2 separate regions of the Homo sapiens genome follow, and region 1 is linked to region 2. The links come from fine-mapping of genetic effects on gene expression. Tissue or cell type: whole blood. Region 2 holds a variant in brackets; the other region holds the start of a gene. All regions are shown on one strand. Distances are from middle to middle.

Region 1 (8,101 bases), 150 kb after region 2:
CTAAGGTCAGGAGTTCAAGACCGGCCTGACCAATATGGTGAAACCCCATCTCTACTAAAAATACAAAAATTAGCTGGGCGTGGTGGCATGTGCCTGTGGTCCCAGCTACTTTGGGAAGCTGAGACAGGAGAATTGCTTGAACCTGGGAGGTGGAGGTTGCAGTGAGCCGAGATTGTGCCACTGAACTCCAGTCTAGGCAACAGAGCAAGACTCCGTCTCAAAAATAAATAAATAAATAATTTATATAAAGAAACATTTATGTACTCATCTGTAAATACTCAGGTATTGAAGGAAAAAAAAATTAAACTAGAATTTTATGTAGAGCCGAAGGTATGTCATTTAAAGGTATTGGCATGATAAAAAAATACTCTTAGGCACACAAGGTCTCATGAAGTTTTGCCCCACAGAGATCCATTTTATAAATGCCTTTAGAGGACAACAACAACAAAAACAAAAACATGCTTAGAAGATGCTGTGAAAGAGATGAGGGCTAAAGGAGGTCAAGTGCCAATTTTCTTTTGGTTGGTATTTGCCAGATGTCTTTTTCCAGGCTCTTTTGCTTTATAGCAATAGACCCAAGAGTAAAGGCATCATTTTAGACAGGAATGGTCACCATAAAATGACAAAAAGTTCAGTTCACCAAGAAGATGGAGCAGTTCTAAACATACTATACACCCAACCAGTCGGCCTCCAAAATAGCTGAAGCAACCATCTGTAAGACTCTCCCCAGGGCCTGAAAGCTTAAGGAGATGAATAACTCCTCCCTTCTCAAGCCTAGTCCCAAGGCGTAAGGTCACTTACGTCAGCAGCGTGCACCAGCAAAATAGCAGAAGCAGGAGGAGAGCCGGCTGGAATACACCTACCCTGGCCGGAAGACATGAAGATGAGAAAGAGGCCATCCGGGTACAGCGTAGCAGTTACGCCAGACTAGGACACTTCCTGTTTACAGGAGACTATAAAACCTTTGCCCCGTCCTCACTTGGGGCTGACGCCATTTTAGGCCTCAGCCGGCCTGCACCAAGGCGTTCATTGAAACAGCATGTTGCTCCACACCGCCTCGTGTTGTCTGTTGGTGCGCTCTCGGGGTTCCAACCCATACAAGAAACTTACACCATCGACAGAATACCAGGAGAAGTTGAAATCATAATGGTGGGCTAGTTCAAGTAAGCAGATGAAAACAAAACAAAGCAAGGTCTATCAAGATGTGAAGTACTACTTGTCTCCTCCCCTCATATTGGGCTGGAACCATGTGACTTGGTTTGGCCAATAAAATGCTAGCAGGTGGGAGACACTCAAAGACTTGAGGAGTGTTTGTGGGGCTAGGCTTGCCCTCCTGTGTGTCCGTGTTTCTAGAACAAGAAGGGGTCTAGGATAGCCCACTGGTCCAGGAGGAAAAGGAGCAGCATGAAGCAGAGCTGAGCTGTTGCAGAACCCAGCCTAGACCAGCGCCCAGCACCTCCAGGAGAACCTCAGGTTCCTGTGTGCAGCCATGAGCTTGGGGGCTTGTTTGGGTTTGTTGCACCGCATTTTTGTGGCAATAGCTAATTGATACACCTTTACATTCAGAGATTGATTCAACAGATCAGAGAAAATGTATTTTTTGGCCGGGTGCGGTGGCTCATGCCTGTAATCCCAGCACTTTGGGAGGCTGAGGCAGGAGGATGACCTGAGGTCAGGGGTTCGAGACCATTCTGGCCAACATGGTGAAACCCAGTCTCTACTAAAAATACAAAAATTAGATGGGTGTGGTGGCGTGCACCTGTAATCCCAGCTACTTGGGAGGCTGAGGCACGAGAATTGCTTGAACCCGGAAGGCTGAGGTTGCAGTGAGCTGAGATCGCACCACTGCACTCCAGCCTGGTGACAGAGCAAGACTCCATCTCAATAAAAAAAGAATTATTATTTTTTTTTTTTTTGACAGAGTTTTGCTCTTGTTGCCCAGGCTGGAGTGCAATGGCGTGATCTCTGCTCACCACAACCTCCACCTCCGGGGTTCAAGAGACTCTCCTGCCTCAGACTCCCGGAAAATGTATTTTAAACAAGGTATTAGGTGATGCACAAGCGCTTATGAGAATCAATGCCTTAACCTCTCCATGGTTTTTTTTTCTTCTGTAAAAAGCAGACAGAACATCACCTGCTTTAGGGTTGTTGAGAGGATTAAGTATGTGAAGCTGATGCAGCCACAGTTGGGCCTCTCCTAAAATTGCTGTTTCTTTTCAACCTCTGCTCCTGGCTGGCACTGGCCAGCCCGCTTTGGGGTGGGGCAGGTGGAGAGAGGATGTGGGGTGTATGCGCCCTAAACTCCTGCAGAAAGTCATGCACCTCCTTTTTTCAGAGGGTGTTAAACTTCTGCTCTAGCACCTACCCATATTCACAGGGAAGGCCAGTGAGATGGTGAATTTGCAGGGGACCACGTGGGGCACGTCGGAGCTGAAAGTGCTGGCAGGCTCAGATGAGGACTCGATGCTGCTGCACGGGCGGTCAGAGTCAGACTCCTGGGCCCTGGCCTTGGCCTTCAGGTGTTCCTCCACGTCACACTCGCTCGTGGACTGGTAAAAGCTAGTGATGGAGGAGATGGGCTCTATGCTTGCGGGGTCCTCTTCCCACTCCCAGGCATGTAGCGACATGCTGCAGAGCGCACTGCTGGCCGCCGGCGCTCCTGGCAGGGAGAAAGTGAAGGCTGTCCCCGCCTGTATTCCAGGGCTGCTCCAGGAGGTAAGCCCGGCCTCCTGCAGAAGCACCCACCCTTCTCTTCCCTGCTTCCCCCGCCTGCTCCTAGATGAACGCCGGGGCTCCTTCACTGCCTGCCACACAGTCGGTACTCAATCGACTTAGAGAATGAATGGATGAAGGAACAACAGATAAGGGTGGCTGGCAGTAAGCACGACGACGAGCAACCCCGTTTCCTTCGCCTAACCAGGAGTCAGTCGCCGGGCTTCTGGAATGCCTGCCCCAGGTGAGCAGCTCCCGGGAGCCACCAGGCGGGAGAGGGGACGTCTGCTCAGGCAGGCCTGCTGCGCCTAAGCACAAGATGCGTTTGCTATTTGGGGAGAGGCAAACCAGGCCGGGGGCAGCACGTGCAGGAGCCTGGCGAGGTCGGGGAGGGCAAGCCCTGTCCCCAAGACAGAACATGAATGTGCACTGGGTGCTGGGCTCGGGGCATCAGCTCAGGCCCATGGAGGCGGAACGCCGGGCAAACGCCGAAGAGGGAACACGCATCGAGGCGAGGCGGGAAGAGTCCCGGGCTGCGGCGGCCGAGGTGGGGGCAGGGGTCGGGGTTCCCCTCCAGGTGCTGGCGGTACCTGCGAGCGGATGCGCTGGGCGGCAGCGGGGAGTTGGACCGCGGCGGCAACTCCCGTACCGGATCCACAGCCACCTGGGCGAAGAGACTCCAAGACTGAGAGGAGCGTCCGCCGGTGCAGGGAGGGCCGCAGGCCCAGCCACTCAGCTACGTTTGGCGGTTGCTAGGAGACGCGAGGGCGTGCGGCCTGGGGGCGGGGCTCCGCGGGGCGGGGCTTTCCCCCTCAGCCACTGCGCGCAGTTTGTCAAATGGCTACATCCAGGTTCAGAAACCAGCTGCCTTCATTCCTTCACTCATGCATTCACTCATTAAGGAGTTTCTACTCGGAACGTCAGCACCTACTATAAGCCTGGTCCTTGCCCGTACGATGGGAGGTAGGGGTTGATGGCTCCTTCCTCCCCCTCCATCAGCTCCCACCTCCCATTCTTTAATAAAAGCAAAGGAAGCTGTGGGCTCTGCAAACTCCAGACCTCCCCACGATCCCTCTCATTAGATTCTCTGCTTCTGTCGCCGATGTCCTTAAAAACCAGACCTCCCCACGATCCCTCTCATTAGATTCTCTGCTTCTGTCGCTGATGTCCTTAAAATAGCATGAGAATTCTTGTTAGTGATCATGAGCGCCAACTCAGAGATCAGAAAACAAAGCTTAGAGAGGTGAAGCGATTCGCCCGAGGTCACACAGCAAGTAGGGCGCAGCACTGTGTTGAAATCCGGACTGCCTGACTCCAAAGCCTCCGCTCGTCTGCTAAACCACCCAAGCTGAGAGCCCTGGCTGCGGCTCCTAATGTAGAGGACCTCAGCACAGCAAGCGGCTGGGACAGAGGGCTGGGGTAGGCCTCATGGAGGAAGTGAGCAACGCCAAATCTGGGGGGTGACTAGGCAGAGGCGGTGAAAGCAAGAGAAAGCATCCCAGGTAGAGGAACAGCATATGCAAAGGCCCATAGAGGTGAAAGGGCATGGCAAGTTTCAGGAATGGGTGGCGAGGCTGTAGCAGTGTGCAGGGCCCATGGTACATAGCCCCACAGGGCAGGTTAGGGCACAGGACTATGGGCAATGGGGAGCCAAGGCAGGTCTTCTGTTGAGGGAGGGCACCCTGCTCCGGCAGTCAGTTTGTTCAAGAGAATGGGAGCTGAGGCTACACACAAGCTTGGCTATTAAGAAAACTTTAGCTGAGTTGAGCTATGACCTACTTTGTGTCAAAGAGCAAAACTGTGGCGCAGCTGGGGCTGAGACCCAAGTCCTGAGCCTCCCAGTGCATGCCTCCCCAGACCGCTCTCAGGGCATGGGACAGCCCCTTTAATACTGGGTGCTCCAATACTCCTCGGGTTCAGTCTGAAAAACAGCCTCAAGTACAGCTGTTAGGGAAGACACCAAATGGCAGTGGGCCCTGTGAGGAGTGGGTTCAAACTCTTAGCACGAGAACGGCAACCACCTTGCCCACACCCCACCTGCAGCAGCCTGGAGACTGCTGTCTGTATGCCAGGAAGTGCTCAGGAGACACATGAAGGGCTGGAAGAATACAAAGCTACTCAGATACACCAGCCCCCAAAAGGGCCCTTTAACAAGGGCAGTTCAACACTACCACCACTCTTGGACAGACATCAGGCCTCCTGCTCCCCAGGTCCTACCCACTGGCCTGAGGCTGGTTTCCCTCCAAAGGTTCCTAGATCACATCACCACCTAGGACAGAAGCCAATCTCTTCCCAAGCTCAATAGTGAGAGGCCAGAGGTCTTGGACCAAGGGCCAATGTGCCATCCTGGATGTGCACTGGAAACACCTACATGTCAAAAATACAATTCTGAGGCTTCATTAAAGACCTGTGGAAGTGACTCTCCAGGGGTGGAGCTTAGAAACCAGTGGCAGATTGTATTTTCCAAAGACAGCCACCTCAAAAGATCCCCTCCCACATAATCTTCCGGCAGGCATTGTGAGGTTCACATTCCTCCCACCCAGTTGGGGGGTCTAGTCTCCTTCTCTGGAAACTGGGCAGACCTCTGTGACTGGCTCAGTCAAAAGAGTGCAGAGGAAATGACACTATGTGATTTCTGAGGCCAGGTCATATAAATTCCATCTACCTCTGCCCTGTTCTTTTGAGGTATAGTATTCATGCTAGGAATCCAGCTAGCATGTTGTGAGGAAGCCCAAGCAGCCATGTGAAATGGCCACATGAAACTGTTGTGACTGACGGTTCCCAGCCAATTGCAGCCTCAACCCCCAGACATATGAGAGTGCAAGACTTCAAATGATCCCAGCCCTCAGTCTTTGAGCCACCCTGGCTGACATTGAGGAACAGAAACAAGCTGTCTCCATCATGAGAAATTGTAGATTTATAAGCAAATTGTTGCTCTCTTAAACCACTAAGTTTTGGGGTGATTTGTTGTGCAATAAATAATAGGAACGGGAGCCATATTTTTAAATTACCACCAAGATTGTATTGCACAACCAGAATATGGAACCACTGCCCTGAGAGAGATGGTGTCTGGGTCAAGACCTAGGGCATCACAGGATGAAGTGAGGGCAAAGGTGTGCTACCCACTACTCAGGTATGAGACAGTGGTGGGTCTACAACCCTACCTCAGTGAAGATGGCTTCAGGGCTGGCAGATCAGAAGCAAAGGAAGGGGGGCTTCTGTTTCAGTTATCTGTTACTGAGTAAAAACCATCCCCAAACTTAATGGTGTCAAACAAACACTTGTTATTTCTCACCACTCCATGCATCAGCTGAGTAGTTCTCTGCTGGCCTCGCCTGGGCTCACTCCCTATGCTGTGCTCAGCTGGAGGACCAACATGGCTGGAAGCTGCCAGAAGTCCTCACTTGCATGTCTGGCAGTTGCTGCTGGCTCTTCGTGGGCCCGCTGGTTCCCCTCCATGGGTTCCCCCGCCCCCAGTGGTACACCAGCTTCCTTCTATGTGGTGCCTCATCTCCTCATAGCCCGGCCTGGCTTCCTCAGATGGCATTCTCAGAGCAGGGATCCCAGAGGGCAAAGAAGAAGTTGCAAGGCCTCTTGGGACCTAGGCGTGGAACCAGCACCATGTCACTCTGCTACATGCCATTAACCAAAGCAAGTCATGAGGCTGGCCCCACTTCAAGGGGATGAAGACATGGACTGTACATCTGGTAAGCAGAGGGACAAGCATCCAGGGGCAGGAGGTGTTCAAGGTCACTGAACAATCCATCCCTTCATCCTTACTCTGCCGGGTGGAGGGTTCCCAAGCTCCCACAGGCTATGTAGAGGCCTTCCTGAAGCTATCCCAAGACTCTGGCAGCTGGAAGCATATTGGGAATCAGCTACATACACCTTCTTCTTGCCCCTTCCCCATTTTTAACAGCTTTATTGAAGTATTTTTTATTTAATAAAATCCATCCATTTCAAGCGTAGAATTCAATGATTTTCAGTAACTTTACCTAGTGCTGTAATCATCATCATAAATTCATTTTAGAACATTTTCATCCCCCTAATAAGACTTCATGCACATTTATAATTAATCTCTGTTCCAACTCCCAGTCCTAGGCAACCATATCTACTTTGTTTCTAAAAATTGGCCTTTTCTAGACATTTCCTATAAATTGAGTCAGACACTGTGTTCTGGCTTTGTGACTGGTTTCTTTCACCTACCGTTATGTTTCCAAGGTTTATTTATGTTGAGGCATGTGTCAGTATTTCATTCCTTTTCATGACTGAATAATATTCTATTGTATGGACAGACCACAGTTTGCCTATCCATTCATCAGTTAATGGGCATTTGGCTTGGGCATTTAGACATTTATGAACAACGTTGCTATGAACATTCCCACACAAGTCTTTGTGTGGATGTGTTTTCATCTCTCTTGGGTCGATATCTAGGAGTGGAAGAGTTGGGTCGTATGGTCATTTTGTGATTAACTTCTTGAGAAACTGCCAAACTATCTTCCACAGGGGCTGCATCATTTTGTGTTCCCATCAACAACATGAAGTTTCCTGTTTCTCCAAATTCTTGACAAGATTTATTGCCTGTTTTATTCACTACAGCTATTCTCATGAGTATAATATAGTATTTCATCATAGTTTTCATGTGCATTTCCCTAACAAGAATACTGAGATTGTTTTATGCACATGTTGGCTATTTATACAACTTCTTTGGTGAAATGTCTGTTTGTATCTTCACCCACTTTTTGATTGGATTGTTTGTCTTCTTGTTACTGAGTTGTTAAGAGTTCATTGTAAATTCGGAATATAAGTCCTTTACTGGGCATATGTTTTACAAATATTTTCTCCTAGTCTCTTGTTCGTCATATTTTCTTAATAGTGTCTTTTGAAGTGCAAATGTTTTGAACTTTGATGAAGGTCCGATTCATCATTTTTTTCTTTTTTGGATCATGCATTTGGTGTCGTATCTAAGAAATCTTTGACTAACAACAGGCCTATTTTTAATAGAAGTAAAGCTTGGTGTCTGAACACTAAGCAAATCTACTAACCAAGACCCCTAAAAACCCAAAAGCTTTATGACACTGAAAATAATGGCCCAAGGACATTCCCAGACAGTTCTGGGCTCTGGATAGAACAACACAAGTTTCCAAAAAACAGGCTGATAATACCACAAGCTTATAAAATATGTATACTCCTTGGCCCAGTAATAAATCACTCAAGATATGGCACAAACTGTTCACAGTATGGTTTTTGCGGAGAAAAGCTGAAAACCACCTCAGTGGGCATCTGTGGGGGATGACAAAGCACCTTATAGTTCATCCCCAGGGAGCACAGAGCAGCCTCTGGAGCAGTGTCTGCAAAGAAACCACAGCCAAGCTGTTTACAAAGCTCA
Region 2 (8,101 bases):
GGCCCGGCCTGGGTGGACACTGGAGGGCACTTTCTGTCTGTGGGTTTTGCCCTGGTGCCTGGAGCCCCTTTCTCTGTGGTCTCTTGACCCAGCCCAGCTCAATGAGCCTGGAGCCCTGGGCTTCTGGAGAAGAGATGTCAAGCTCTACCACAGGTCACAGGTCAGAAACAACTCTCGCCTTGTCTGATGCAAATGGAAGCCAGGCCTGCTTCCCACAGGGCGGGCACTTCCAGTGGGGCACAGCAGCAAGGCAGAGGGACAGACTCTGAGGGGCCCTTGAGAAAATCAAGCAGGGCCCACAGGGACCCTCTCTCTGGGGTTGCAAACTGGCACTGGGTGGAGGGAGATTCGGTATTGACACCTGGGGACCCTTACCCCCAAAGTGGATGTTAAGGACAGCAGCACATTAGGGAGACAAGGGGCCCCACAACACTCCCAGCCTGTCCCCAGCCTGCTTCCGGCTTTCTGGTCCTTTTCTCTTGCGGGGAAGGAGAATTTTATCTGACTTTCTCTGACTTCTGGCCTTTCTTGGGCAGCTGAAAATGATAAGTAGGAAATACTGGCTTGCTTAGAGCCTTCTTTGGTTTTACTGGGAAATGGAAACTTTGGCAGATGGGGAAGGACAGTGGGAACCCCAGGAAAAAGGGACGATGCTCTGATGGTGGAGTGTTTCCTCTTCTGTTGTTTTCTGTGATCTAAAATGAGAGGTTGCTTGGGATAGTTGATTTGTTTTCCATTGATGACACTGAGATGTTCTTGGCCTGGAATCCCATGGCCACCACAAGTTGGGTTGTTTGGGGTTCGGGTGGTCCAGGAGTGGCTCTTGGTGTGGTGTGACTGGCAACCTCTGGACACTTTTCACCTATGGATTTTTCATCACTTGTTCCAGTGAAGGACACTCCTTGGGGTCCAGCATTAGTCACTTTTTAATAAGTCTTTCCATTCGTTGGGGAAAAAAATTGTGGTGAACGGTATTCTGCACTGATCATTTTTTCTTGAGGCCTGTAGGGTTCCCTGAGTAGAAGGGCAGGGCCCCGGCCACCATGGAATACAGTGTGGCACGGAGGCTCCATACAATCATGGTGGCGCTGGCACTCCTGGCCCAGGAAGAGTTCCGTGGCCACGTAGGGGTGCGCGCCACAAAATGTTTTCAGCATCTATGCCTCCCCGAATGTCATGCTAAAGCCAAAGTCCATGATTTTTATATTGCGTTCCTCATTGAGTAGCATGTTTTGTGTGTGGATGTGTGATGTTCTTCAAGTGGCAGTAGTGCAGGGCTGACAGAATCTGCCTGAACATGGTTCAGGCCTCCTCTTCCTCGATGTGGCCTTGGTGGCATATCTGGTGCTGTAGCTCTCCTCCTCTGGCGTACTCCATCACCACATACATGGTTTCCACCTTGTCAGTCACCTGGTGGAACTGAATGATATTTGGGTGATAGAGAGTCTTCATGATACTCATCTCTCTCTCTAGAGAGCAAGGCCAGCCTTCTTAGGGATGATTTGGAGGACAATTTGGGTCCCAGTTAGCCTATGCCGGGCCAGTTCCCTGGCGGATGGTGTCAAGGATCCCATAGTTTTGTATCTTTTTGCCAGGTGAGGTGGAGGCCGATCCCGGCTCTATGGTGCCTCCTAGCTACGCTGCCGCAAAGGGAGGTGAACAAGCCAAGGTTGCCCGGCCTGTACCTAGGGCCACACGGCTCCTGAGGCCTGGCATGAGTTGATACTGGAGGGGGCTTTCTCTTTGTGGGCTTTGTTCTGGTGCCTGAAGCCACTTCCCTATGGTCTCTTGATCCAGCCTAGCTGGCTGAGCCTGGAGCCCTGGCTTCCAGAGAAGAGATGTCAGGCTGTACCACAGGTCATGGGCCAGAAACAATTATGGCCTTGTCCAGTGCCAGTGGAAGCCAGGCCTGGGGAGGGCGCCTCCTCTCACAGGGCTGGCACTTCCCGAGGGTGGATGGCAGCAAGGTGGGGAAGACAGACTCTGAGGGGCCGGCCCTTCGGGAGCTCAAGCAGAGCCCACAGGGACCCCGTCTGGGGTTGCAAACTGGCATTGGGTGGAGGGAGATTCAGTATTGACACCTGGAGGACCCTCACTCCCAAAGTGGATTTTAAGGACAGCAGCACACTGGGGAGACAAGGGGGCCCACAGCATTCCCACCTGGTCCCCAACCCGCTTCTGGCTTCCTAGTCCTGTTCTCTTGGGGGAAACAAGACTCTTATCTGACTTTCTCTGACTTCTGTCCCTGCTTGGGCAACTGAAAATGACAAGTAGGAAATACTGGCTTGCTTTGAGCCCCCTTTGGTTTTGCTGGGAAGGTGGAAACTTTGGCAGACGGGGAAGGACAGATGGGAACCCCAGGAGGAAGGGCCATTGCTCTGATGGTGGAGCGCTTCCTCTTCTGTTCTTTTGTGTGTTCTAAAACGAGGTATGTGCCATGGGAGAGTTGATTTCTTTTCCAGTGTTGACACTGAGATGTTCTCGGGCTGGAATCCCCTAGCCACCATGACCAGGGCTGTAGGGGGCGCAGGTGCCCAGGTTCTCTGTATGGTGTCAGCAGCACCTCCCGGCCAGCATTGACCCAGGAATTCCACATCAGCTGGTTTAGTGGGGGCCGCTCCCTGGGGCTGAGGGTGAGGAATTGTTTTACTAGTGTCTCCAGTGGAAATGAAAAAATAGATAAGGTGTCGTATTGTCATATAGCTTGAGGCAGAAAGGAACCACGGGTGGGGCTGGATGTTCTTTCAGCCTCCCTAGCAGAGATCACAGACAAGAGTGGTCAGCTTGGCCTAGCTTCTGCGATGGCTGGCTCTGATGTTGGGGAGGGAGGCAGTCCCCAGAGCAGGAATGCCTTCCCTGGGGTTCATATCCTTGCAGGGTAGGAGCTGGAAATCCTCCCATCAGAGCCTCCTTCACTGCAGCCCGTGGGGGCGAGTGACAGGGGGATCCGTGCCCCACGGGCAAACCTCCGGGCTCTGGCTTCAGCCCCACCCCGGGGAAACATGCACAGCCCCTCGGGAGGAGCCCTGCTGCAGGCTCAGCTGGGAGTCCTGGATTGCCTGGCAGGGCTGAGATGCCGTTTGGGTAGCCTCGGGTCTCCATGGAGACAGGGGCGGGGCCAGGCGGCAGGGGCGGGGTGCCCAACAGCCAACTGCCCGCCCTCAACCGCCAAAAACCCACACTCAACCGCCAAAGGCCAAGGCCAAGGGCCCTCTGGCGCTGCTGCCCCCACACGGACTGGCGCCCTCTGCAGGTCCCGCGGCTCCCGGCCCGCTCAGCGCCTCCGGAGGTCTCACCCAAGCCCTATCAGCTGGGTCCCTACGGGCCTCAAAGCGCTGGCCCAGCCGCGGGGTCACTCCTCTGAGCCTCCCGACCTTCCATGGGTCCTTTGGAGCCCTGGGTTTTGGAGCTTGTCCTTCCTCAGTGCCGCCCGCCGGGACGTGGCTGCACCAGGGCCACAGCACCTCGGGGGCCTTCATTTCATTTATGCCCACAAATAATCATTCAGTGTGCTGGGACAGAGAAGACAGACACGCTGGCCCCCTGGTGGGCGAGAGAGACTGGTCTATCAGTACAGAAAACTCCCAGTAGGGACAGGGGCTAGGAAGGAAACACCAGGAAAAGTGATGATGGAAGATGGGGGTGACCCTACTGCAGATGGGGTGCTAAGGGAGGGCTTCTCTGAGGAGATGACATTCACTTGATTGGCAAAAGGGACAGGCAGGGCCTGTGAAAGTCTTCTAAGAGGGGGAACCGCAGTGCCCAGTGGGCTGTCCCAGGATGGAACTAGGGCAGCGGGTGGGGGTGGGGATGTGAGCCAGGCAGGCAGGGCCCAGACACCGTGTGATGGGTGCGGGGGTGGGACCCACGGAGGCTCTGAGGAAGCTTTGGGCCTCAGAAGATGGAGAAACAGGAAGACCCACTTGGAGGCCTGCACCCAGGCAGGGGGCGAGAGCTGAATGCATCGCACCGCCCTCCTGGGGCTACCCGTGGGCCTCGCTTTCTTTCCCCATGCTCTGCACTCTGCCACGCACCCCTTCCTCGGCCAGGCGGACAGAGGAAATGCAGATGCTGGAGGCAGGAGCACTGGACTGGGAATTAGACTTGGAGTAAAATCTAAATGCCCTATGGGCCTGGCTCTTCTCTGGAGTTCGGCTTCATGTTAACTGTGATTGGGGGACAAGGGACAGTAAGACCGGCTCTCAGACCCTTGTCACTCCACACTGCAATGCTTCTCAGTGGTCTCAGGGGCTTCTATTTTAGGAATAGTTACCTGGCTATAGAAGAATAATGGAAGGAAACATGTTTTGAGTGGC[G/A]CTTATATCAGGCTCTAGACTAGGTATTGGTTTTGATGGGGAGTTGCTTTTTTTTTTTTCTCCCTTTCACAAAACCTGAGTCCTGACTAGGGCCAGGAGTTAGATTCCAGTTTCTAGATTTTCATCATTCCATGTTGCACAAGGCAGACATCTAGGGGACAGAAGGGCAGATTATTAGCATGTAAAGGAAAGATGATTTAGCTAGAGAAGATGTAGGAGAAAAGGAATCAGGATGAGGGGATTAGGAATGGGAGAGGAGGAGCTGGGGGACAGGGAGTTGGGGGCGGGGCTGGGACAAACAAAAAGGAGGTGTGGAGGGTGCCAGGGAAATAAAGTCCAAGAGGATAGCGGGGACCAGAGTCACAGCCTTAGTGGGGCCTCAGGAGAGCAGCAAGCTATGTCTACCTTGGAAAGGTGGAGAGAGGATGGCAGTGAGCTGGGCAGGGAGGAAGGGGAAGGGGGCAGGGCAGAGGAAGCAGGGGACAGACCGGAGGAAGAGATGGTGCCCTGGACCAGGTGGGGCAGAGGGGCCCTCTGGTCTCCAGGAGGTGTCATGCTGTCCTTCAGCTCATCCGTAGCTTTGGATAGGAGGCCTTTGAAGGCCGCAGGGTTGCCAGATGCCGTCTTGACTAGAATCATGTTCACTGACCCCGGCAGCAACTTGGACACCTCCATCCTCTGCTGAATGCCACTGGGCTGGGTGTGCTGGGCACATGGAAGCATTGGCCTCTTGCCTGCCTCCCACCCACAGCTGTTGCAGTCTACACATGGCCAACATGTCACAGGTTTTTAATATTTTTGAACCTCAGGGCCTTAATGCAGTAAAATGCAGGAAGTGCGGCTTGACTGCCCCACCTACTCGATTTTTGTCTTCAGCCATCCAACTATGTCGGGGCAATCATTTTGCTTGTTTTCTTCGGTGGACACACACATAATACTTTTAAAAGCATTGAAAGGCATCTCCTGGCGGCCCTGCGGCAGCCCCAGCTTCTTGACAGCGAGGCGACATCACAGCTTTGGGCTGCCCAGCTTGGAGGACGCTGGCTTCCTGTGATGATTGTCACTGAGCCAGGGACCCACTGCTGCTGGTGCTCTGGCTGGAGGGAGAGGCCATGGAGTCATGCTGGGGGACTTCACTGGAAATGGCTGGCTTCCTCTGCAGGCCGGCAGGTGCACTGGCAGGAATGGTGGTCTTCTGTCCTGACTTCTGGCCCTCCTCGGGCAGCTGAATTTTAAAAGTCTCAAAAGCTGGCTCGCTCTGAGCCCTCTTCAGTTTCTCCCAGAAGGTGGAAACTTTGGGGGCTGGGGAAGAAAAGGTGGGAACCCCAGAGGAAGGGAGGGTGCTCTGATGGTGGAGCGCTTCCTCTTCTGTTTTTTTGTGCACTCTAAAATGAGGCAGGTGGCCATGCGATAGTTGAATGTTTTTTCTTTGACATGGAGATGCTCTTGGCCTGGAATCCCATGGCCACCATGAGCTGCGTTGTTGGGGTTCGGGTAGTTCAGGAGTCATTCTTGGTATGAAGTCAGTAGCATCTTCTGGCCACTGTCCACCCACGGGTCCCTCATTGGTTGTTCCAGTGGGGGTCACACCCTGGGGTCTAGTGTTAGTAACTTTTTAATAAATCTATTTGAAATGAAAAGAAAAATGGAGGCAATGTGTACTTTCCTGTTTATTTTGTTCTTGATGTGCATAGAGTAGAAGGGCAGAGCCCCGGCTACCATGTGGTGTAGCATTACTCTAAGCATACCTCCACGGCGGGCACTGACACCCCTGGCCCAGGAAGAGTTCTGGGGCCACGTAGGGGGTACGTGCCACAAAAGGCTGGCACACTTCGTAAGTGTGGTGCTGAAGCCAAAGTCCAGGTATTTGATGTTGCCATCCTCATCCAGTAGGATGTTTTGTGGCTTTAGGTCTCCATGTGAGATGTTCTTTAAGTGGCAGTCCTGCAGTGTTGACGGAATCTGCCTGAACCGGGTGTGGGCCTCCTCCTCCTCCTCGATGTGGCTGTGGTGGCATATCTGGTGGTGCAGCTGTCCTCGTCCGACGCACTCCATCTCCAAATAGTCGGTGTCTATGGTGTCAGTCACCTGATGGAGCTGAATGTTCAGACGCTTGAGGGTCTCCGTGATACTGACCTCTCTGGAGAGTGATGCGGGGGAGCCAGCCTTCTTCGGGATGATTTCCATGGCTACCTGGGTCCCTGTCAGCATATGCTGGACCAGTGTGCCCTCACCGAACGTGCCCTGGCCGATGGTCTTGAGGATCCTACACTTTTGGATCTCTTCATCAAGTGCGTTGGAGGCTGATCCCTCCTCCGTGGTGCCTCCTAACTACCCTGACTACAAATCCTACCTCTGAACTATGCTAACTGAGGCACAACGCCAACTCCAATAACTAGGCTAGAGTCGCACAGGCTGCCTGGGGAGGGTGGAGACCGAGAGCCCTCTCCAGAGCCTGGTCTCCTTTGCCATGTTCCCTCTATCATTTTCCCTTGCACAGGAGAGGGGAGGGGTGTGCCCAGAAACTAAGAGCCACTCCCCTCCTTATCCTTTCATGACTCTTCTGGGGTCACACCCTCACCCTTGCCCACCCTGGAGCCCCCGTTTTGCTTTGAGGGGACCCGGGCCAGTGACTGTCGAATCACACCTGAGGCCCTGGGTGCATCAGTGGCCATGTGGGGGCAGCTAGGAGGTGTCCCCAGAGAGGCCCTGTGGTCATCCCCTGCTCTGCGGCTGTGTGCAGACCCCGGAGGCACAATCAGACTTCAGGGGCACAGCCAGAGGACACTTCCCCTCCACCGTCCCCTTTAGACTCTGCAGAATCCCTGGAGGATATCCAAGTGCACACAGTTTGTGCTCCCCAGCTACCCCGTGAGGGCACGCCCTGGATTAGTGTGAACAAATGGAAGCTGCTCCCGTGGGCAGGTCGAGTGCCTCTGGCACTCCGTTGGCTGCTGCCCACAAAGCTCCCGGCCATGGCCTCCCGGGGGGCTGCACTATCACTCTGGCTGCCTCCAAATGGAGAGAGGACTGCAGTGACCTGGGCGGGGTTAGGGGAGAAGGAGGTGGCAGGGCAGAGGAAGCAGGAGCACACAGGAGGAAGAGACAGTGCCCTGGGCCATATCTTCTCTCCTACCCTAACATGAGCCAAATTAGAACCATCTGGATGAAGAAAAGACAGAGAAGAGCAGGGCAGGGGAGAAGTGCCCCAGGAAACACTGTCCAGGCTTTTACATTCCACTAGGTGGGATGGAGGCGCCCTCTGATGTCCAGGAGGCTCCAGGCGGTCCATCTCACCCCTTCCTTTGGATAAGAATGCTTTCAAGGCCACACGGCTACCAGAAGCTTACTTGATTTGAATCCCATGCAGAGACCCCTCTGCCACTTTACACACTTCTGTCCTCCACTGGACAAGGCCTCCAGGCTGGGGGTGTCAGACACACAGCAGCGAGGGTGTCTTGCCCAGTTCTCCCATGCGGCCGTTGGAGCCCACACGTGGCTGACCTGTCATGTTTGTAGTGTTCTTGGACCTCAGGGCCTTCGTCCTCTCCATTCTAAGTACAGAAAGACATTTGACTGACATGGACTCCCTCAGGTGTTTTGCAATACGCAATACATTCTCATTGACTCTGGTCACCCTGCTGTGCACTGGATGTGAAAACCTCTTCTTCCTGTCCATCTCAGACTTTGGTCCTTTGAGCAACAACTCTCCATTCTCTCCCTCTTTCCCACCCCCACACCTGATACCCAGCCCCTGGTCACCATTGATCTACTCGCTACTTCTA

The links. PIP is the estimated chance that this variant, and not a neighbour inherited with it, causes the effect.
Region 1: it holds the start of CFAP92, and the variant in region 2 is fine-mapped to the expression of CFAP92 in whole blood (TOPMed, PIP 0.94).

Annotation. Positions count from the first base shown.
Region 1 is chr3:128,990,678-128,998,778 of GRCh38, forward strand. CFAP92 (cilia and flagella associated protein 92 (putative)) reads right to left here and starts at 3,399. Exons shown (of 16, transcript NM_001394090.1): 1 at 3,303-3,399; 2 at 2,366-2,659. The coding sequence starts at 2,627. RefSeq lists an enhancer at 2,067-2,828 and a silencer at 3,405-3,614.
Region 2 is chr3:128,842,816-128,850,916 of GRCh38, forward strand. It overlaps MIR12124 (microRNA 12124), which reads left to right and starts at 3,993; the gene lies at 3,993-4,093. It also overlaps the pseudogene MARK2P17 and the pseudogene MARK3P3. RefSeq lists enhancers at 2,465-3,462, 3,451-3,500, 3,463-4,460, 4,461-5,458 and a silencer at 3,041-3,250. The variant G/A (reference allele first, on the strand shown) is at 4,317.